2 linked regions of the Homo sapiens genome follow. The protein of the gene in region 1 purifies or fractionates together with the protein of each later gene. This does not show direct contact. Each region holds a gene or a part of one and is shown on either strand. Other genes may lie near its edges. The genes, in order: ZNF138 and DDI2.

The links.
Region 2: the proteins of ZNF138 (region 1) and DDI2 purify together in Homo sapiens (co-immunoprecipitation; one large-scale study listed by IntAct). This does not show direct contact.

Annotation. Positions count from the first base shown.
Region 1 is NC_000007.14:64,800,643-64,804,466, forward strand, and holds part of ZNF138 (zinc finger protein 138), read left to right. Parts: intron 1-3,824. UniProt on the Homo sapiens protein: May be involved in transcriptional regulation as a repressor.
Region 2 is NC_000001.11:15,648,209-15,652,032, reverse strand, and holds part of DDI2 (protein DDI1 homolog 2), read right to left. Parts: intron 2,314-3,824; coding exon 2,210-2,313; intron 328-2,209; coding exon 138-327; intron 1-137. UniProt on the Homo sapiens protein: Aspartic protease that mediates the cleavage of NFE2L1/NRF1 at 'Leu-104', thereby promoting release of NFE2L1/NRF1 from the endoplasmic reticulum membrane.

The sequences.
Region 1 (3,824 bases):
GTTTTCTTTTTATATCTGTGTCAGGTTTTGGTGTCTGAATGATGCTGTTCTTACCTAATGAGTTGAAGGAGGGAGTGTCTTCTCAATTTTTTGGAATAGTTTTAGAAAGAATGGTACCAGCTCTTTTTTTTATACATCTTGTAGAATTTAGCTGTGGATGTCTCTGGTCCTGGGCTTTTTTTGGTTGCTAGGCTATTTATTACTAATTCAGTTCTGTAGTTTGTTATTGTTCTATTCAGAGATTCAATTTCTTTTTTGTTCAGTCCTGGGAGGATGTATTTTTCAGGAATGTACTATTTCTTTTAGATTTTCTAGTTTGTGTGCATGGAAGTGTTCATAGTAGACTTCAATAGTTATTTGTATTTTTCTGGGGTCAGTGGTAATGTCCCTTTTGTCATTTCTAATTGTATTTATTTGAATCTTCATTAATCTTGCTAGTGGGTTATTTAGCTTATTAATTTTTTTAATAGATTTAACTCCTGGATTTCTTGATCTGTTGCATAGTTTTTTATGTCTAAATCTCCTTCAGTACAGCTCTTGTTATTTTTTGCCTTCTGCTAGCTTAGGGGTTTGTTTCCCCTTGCTTCTCTCCTTATTTTATTCATAATGTTAGGTTGTTAAATTGAGATCTTTTTAACTTTTTTATGGGGGCATTTAGTGCTATAAATTTTTCTGTTAGCACTGCATTAGCTGTGTTGCAGAGATTCTGATATGCTGTACTTTGTTCTCATTTGTTTCAAAGAGCTTTTTGATTTTGCCTTAATATTATTATATACCCAAAAGTTATTCAGGTACAGGTTGTTTAATTTCCATGTACTTGTATGGTTTCAAGTGGTTTTCCTTGTATTGAATTATATTTTAATCAATCTGTGGTCTGAGTATGTGGTTGGTATAATTTTGGGATGTTTGAAATTGCTGAGGATTGTTTTATTTTGGATTGCGTGGTCAATTTTAGAGTATGTGCCACATGGTGCTGAGAAGAATATATATTATGTTGTTTTTAGATGGAGAGTTCTGTAGATTTCTAGTAGGGCTATTTGGTTAAGTATTGAGTTTAGTTCTTTTTTAATTTGCTGCCTCAATAATGTGTCTAATAGTGTCTGTGGGGTGTTGTAGTCTCCCACTATTGTATCAGAATCTAAGTCTCTTCATAAATCTCTAAGAACTTGCCTTATTCATGTGCACCTGTGAAAGGAAATTAAATCTTGGGACCCAAAACTCATTAAGCCAAACAGAAAAGTTAAGCTGGGAACGGGGTCACACAAACCTGCCTTCCTCTTTTGGCTCTGTTGACGAAGAGTCAAACTCTGTAAAATATTTTAAGAGATTTATTCTGAGCCAAATATGAGTGACCATGGCCTGTGACACAGCCCTCGGGAGGTCCTGTGATCAGGCCAAGGTGGTCGGGTTACAGCTTGGTTTTATATATTTTAGGGAGACATGAGACATCAATGAAATACATTTAAGAAATACATGGATTTGTCCGAAAGGCAGAACAACTCAAAGTGGCGGCTTCCGGGCTATAGGCAAATTTACACATTTTCCGGTTGACAGTTGGTTGAGTATATCTGAAGACCTCGGATCAATAGAAAGAAAATGTTCAGGTTAAGATAAAGGATTGTGGAGACCAAGTTTTATTGTGGAGAGGAATCTCAGATAGCAGACTTCAGAGACAGCAGGTTGTAAAAATGTTTCTTCTTACTGGACTTAAAAAGGTGCCTGGCTCTTAGTTGATTGATTATCTCCTGGATCTGGAATGTAAGGAAGGAAAACAAAAGAGGAAAGGGGATTGTCTATAGAATGTACATTTTTCCCACAAGAGACTTTTGCAGGGCAATTTCAAGGCATGGCAAGAAAATATATTTTGGTGTTAAATATTTTGATTTTTTTTTTCTTGTCTCATAATGTTACGCCAGAGTCAGATTGGAAAGTAAGTCACGATCTATAGGGTCAAATAAAACCCATCTGATGAGAATTTATGGTTTGTAGGGCATGACCCCTTACAAACAATTAGATAGAAATTTGGGCAAGATAAAAAATTCAGAGCTTAGTCCTCAGTTCCTAAATAAGATGGCTACAAGAAGAAAAGCTACATACCTCCCCCATCTTTTGCCCACAAGAAAATTTCTAGTGAGCCGCAAGATCTTTACCCTAAGGTGTTTCTGTTAAAATGTAAACTGATAGCTTATCTTTACAGATACAGTCACCCCCCTGCCCAACAGACACAAATGCATATCTGATTGTTCCCCTGCCTCGTTTTGTCTTGTCTTATGTTAAAAAAAAAAAATGCAGATTCACTGAGCCAGACAATGGCATGAGTGACTATTTTTCCCTACCCCCCTCTTACATAACAATTGTGTACTTCTCAATATCTCACTGTAGGAGAAAATATAAATTAGAAATAAGAGGGTTTATTCTCCTGCATGAAAATAAGGGAGGATATTTTGTTAATTTATTTTTCTTTAAAGCACTTAAATTATATGTAGATTTTTTTCTTTGTTGTTTGAAAGATATGTAAATCATATTAACAGCTAAATCTTTTGTCATTGTTTTTGACTCAGGATTGTCTTTATCTAGGACCTCAGATTCATTGCTTTGTTTTTGCTTTGGCAAAGGTTTTTTTTTTTTTTTTTTCATTTAATCTGTATCTTTTAAGGTAGACACAGATTTGTTTAGATTAAAGCTCATTTTAAGAGCACACAAAAGTTGAGCACAAAGATAGGATTACATTTAGCAATACAGAATGATGAAGACTAAAAGATACCAAGTAAGCTCCTTTGACAGAAAACAGATTATCCAAGGTAATTATTTAATATTTGCAGGCTGAAGTACTTACATTGCAAAAGCGAGGTTCAGTGTATGAACTGAACAGTGGAGTCTGTGGTTGTGCTTTGGTTTCTGCTTATTACTTCAGAACAATTAGCATAGTTATGTGTAGTGTTTGTAGACAAACTGCATTCATATAAATTAAGCAGTATTTTATACAGTAGTGTGAATATAACACCACAATATTTGCTTTGAATGAATCCCTTAGTAATTTCAATATTTTTATATTCATACATTTGGAATATAAAGTGTTTTAATTGGATTATGGTTACAGACAATTTTTAAAAATCCTATGTACATTATAAATAGTACATTAAAATTATACTAAGTGTATCTAATCAAAAAAGTTACTATCAAATTATTACAGTAGATATTAGTATAACATGGTTACTAATTTATCCAATAGAGATAATTATAGGTAAGCATAACTTCAGTGTCTTTCGTTTCACTAAATTGGAATGCTGCTGTTACAGGAAAAATAAACAAGGGTGATGTGGCCACCCAAAAACCGTAATAGCTCTTCACTTACCCATGATGCAAGCTCAAATATATTCCACTATATTAACAAAGTCATATTCCAATTCTTCATTAAAAAGTTCTGGTGGGGATAAGGGAGGAGACCACCCCTCATACTGTCTCATGCCCAATTTCTGCCTCCAAAGAAAGAAGTAAAAACTAAAAGGCAGAAATGAAATCCACAGGCAGACAGCCCGGCGCCACACCGTGGGCCTGGTAGTTAAAGATTGACCCCTGACCTAATTGGCTATGTTATCTATAGATCACAGACATTGTATAGAAAAGCACTGTGAAAATCCCTGTCCTGTTCTGTTCCGTTCTAATTACCGGTGCATGCAGCCCCCAGTCATGTACCCCCTGCTTGCTCAATTGATCACAGCCTTCTCATGTGGACCCCCTTGGAGTTGTGAGCCCTTAAAAGGGACAGGAATTGCTTACTCGGGGAGCTCAGTTGTTTGGAGTTGTGAGTCTTGCTGAAGCTC
Region 2 (3,824 bases), on another chromosome or scaffold:
GACAAATAATGAACACATCTACTACTGGACCATGAGACTAATTAAAAACTGGAAAGGTTCCTACCCCTTCTGAAGCCCACACTTCCCGGGCTTACCCATCAATAACAAGTATTGAAGAGTTTGGCCATCCCAAATACCTGCATCCTCTGCTGATTTTTGAAGGGCTTCTGCTAATTCTTGGTCTGCAATCTCCTCTGGCCGTACATCCTCTCTTCCAGCCCCATATGCCAACCGGGCACACTCTGGTAGCTCTCCCTCAGGAAGAAAGGTGGTCTGGGAGCCTGTGGTGCCGATCACGAGTACATTTTTCTTCAGGTCGATGGAACACTTGGAAGAAAGAAACCAAAGAATAATAGCAGATAAAACACCATGCAGAAAAATTATGCTCCTTAATTTAAAACTCCAATCACAAATGGCCAGGCACGGTGACTCATGCCTGTAATCCCAGCACTTTGGGAGGCTGAGGAGGGCAGATCACCTGAGGTCAGGAGTTCCAGACCAGCCTGGCCAACACGGTGAAACCCCACCTCTACTAAAAATACAAAAATTAACCAGGCGTGGTGGCACATGCCCATAATCGCAGCTACTTGGGAGGCTGAGGCAGGAGAATCACTTGAACCTGCGAGGCAGAGGTTGCAGTGAGCCAAGATTGTGCCACGCAAGGCAATCTCCACAGTATTCTTTACTCCATGCTAATGCTAACTTCCTTTTTTGTGTATTTTATAACTACTTAATAGACAGTTGTGCACATATATGATTTACATCTATAAAGTTGGAGACTGCTGGTCTATACCATGACTAAAAAAATAAGGAAAGGCAGTGACAAGGTTTTATTGATACATACACTCATTCATTCATTCGTTCTATTTAGAATGCTGTGAGCCGGGCGTGGTGGCTCACGCCTGTAATCCCGGCACTTTGGGAGGCTGAGGCGGGCGGATCACGAGGTCAGGAGATCGAGACCATCCTGGCTAACAAGGTGAAACCCCGTCTCTACTACAAATACAAAAATTAGCCGGGCGTGGTGATGGGTGCCTGTAGTCCCAGCTACTCGGGAGGCTGAGGCAGGAGAATGGCGTGAACCCAGGAGGCGAAGCTTGCAGTTAGCCAAGATTGCACCACTGCACTCCAGCCTGGGCAACTGAGCGAGACGCTATCTCAAAATAAATAAATAAATAAATAAATAGAATGCTGTGTCTTATTATCAATATGATGCATCTACTTTTACAGAAATATTTTAAAATAGTGACATAAAAATATTGATTAGCTATATTTTCAATTGTTTTTAACTCAATTTTGTTTTTTGAGATGTGGTTTTGCTCTGTTACCCAGGCTGAAGTGTAGTGGCACAATCTTGACTCACTGCAGCCTGGTCTCAAGGGATCCTCTTGCCTCAGCCTCACGAGTAGCTAATGTACCACCACGCCTAGCTAATTTTTGTACTTTTTGTAGAGACAGGGTCTCACTAAGTTACCCAGACTGGTTTCAAACTCATTCTGGCCTCAAGCAATCCTCCCTCCTTGGCCTCCCAAAATGCTGGAATTACAGGCATGTACCACTGTACCTGGCAGGTTGACTGGATATAAAACCCTACTGTGAAAAATGTGAAGTACCCAGTGAGGTCTACAGCCATACCACCCTGAGCATGCCTAATCTCATCTAAATACCCAGTGGACTAACTGCTTCTTCAACGACGGCAGTATATCTCAAATTATTGTGCTTTAGAGTAGAAAGATAAATATCAACACAAATTAATATATTAATTATGCACCCTGTACTAAATAAACACTTTCACTCCCAACATATACCTTCCTTAACCTTGAAGGTCTTCTTCCCAAGTACTGTTTGATCAGCATCAGAGAATGCTAAAGACTTACTTGACTCACACTTTTTAGTCAGGTCATCAAAAAACTACTAATCAGGATCTAACCAGAATCTGAAAATTATACAAGGGAACCAAACTGTCCTTTACAATCTCAAAACATTTGGCAAGATTTAACAGATTCACAGAGAGATTTCACAAAAACAGATTCTATCTATATCGACACATCATTTCAACCTCTGTATAGCAACATAATTTAAGGACATTTCCAGGTTTGAAAAGTCGTTATTTCTTAGTTTTCCAGTATATGTAACCAATAAAAATAATGTGATAATGACCATATTACAAAAAGCAGATGCAAAAAAAATAAGTGAAGCTCTTAATTACCTGGTGCCGTTTAAGCATGTCCAGTCCCAGAAGCATGTCCATGGGCTGTTCCTCAAGTATAGAGAAGGAACATGGCAAAAAATCTCCTTCAATCTGAACCTGAGCTAAAAAGCACATGAAGAGAAAAGGTTATTGTTACGTACTTCAAAACAGAGACGGAGTTTCGCTCTTGTTGCCCAGGCTGGAGTGCAATGGCATAATCCTGGCTGATGGCAACCTCTGCCTCCCGGGTTTAAGTGATTCTCTTGCCTCAGCCTCCCAAGTAGCTGGGATTACAGGCATGTGCCACCACGCCTGGCTAATTTTGGTATTTTTAGTAGAGACGGGGTTTTGCCATGTCGGTCAGGCTGGTCTCAAACTCTTGGCCTCAGGTTATCTGCCCACCTTGGCCTCCCAAAGTGCTGGGATTACAGGTATGAGCCACCGTGTCCAGCTGAAAAGTTCTTTTCATTATTATTTTTTGAGACAGAGTCTTGCTCTGTTGCCCAGGCTGGAGTGCAGTGGCGTGATCTCGGCTCACTGCAACCTCTGCCTCCTGTGTTCTCTGATTCTCTGCCTAAACCTTCCAAGTAGATGGGATTACAAACACGCACCACCACGCCCAGCTAATTTTTACATTTTTAGTAGAGACAGGGTTTCACCATGTTAGCCAGGCTGGTCTTGAACTCCTGACCTCACGTGATCCACCCACCTTGGCCTCCCAACGTGCTGGGATTACAGGCGTGAGCCACTGCACCCAGCCAAAAACTTTTTGTAGAGATTGAGTCTCGCTATATTGACCAGGCTGGTCTTGAACTTCTGGCCTCAGGCAGTCATCCCTGCCTTGGCGTCCCAAAGTGCTGGGATTACAAGAGTGAGCCACCACACCCAGCAGATGACCTATTTTTAAAGAACTCCTTCCTTACACAAGATATTGTGTATTTTCTGCTAAAATCTTTAATTTTCCTTTCCACATCTAGGTTTTAGGGTTGTTTTTTTTTTTTTTTTTTGAGACAGGGTCTGCTACGTTGCCCAGGCTGGTCTCAAACTCCTAGGCTCAAGCAATCCTCCCTCCCCTGCATCTAGGTGTTTACTCTGAATTTGCTTTTGTGTGGTGTGGGTAGGGTCCGATTTCTAATTCATTTCTCCCCATGGATACCTCTTGTCCCAGCAACATTTCCTAACATTTCCCCATTGCTCTGTAAGACTTCCTCTCATTGATCAATGTTCATAGAATCATGGGTTTGTTTCTACTCATATCTTCTAGATAGTCCTTTGATATCTAGAAGGCAATGTTTTTCTAGAGTATTTTGCCCATTCTCACAATATAGGGCCCACGCCAAATTTAAAATGAGCACATCCAGTCTCACAAAAAATCTACCAGGATTTTGATGGCATCTCAATGGTTCTGTGGATTAATGTGGGAGAACTGCCACCCCCAACATACTGAATCTCTAATCCATGGTAAAGCTTTCCTTTTATTTAGGTTTCCCCTATTGCTATAAGGGTTTTTTCATGCTGATCATAGCCACGGTTGTAAAATCCACAAGGATGGCCACAGAGCTTGGTACTTATTTTGTCTCCTCCTATTATCTTCTCATTTAAAGTCATCAAAAATCTGAGAACTCAGCCCCTG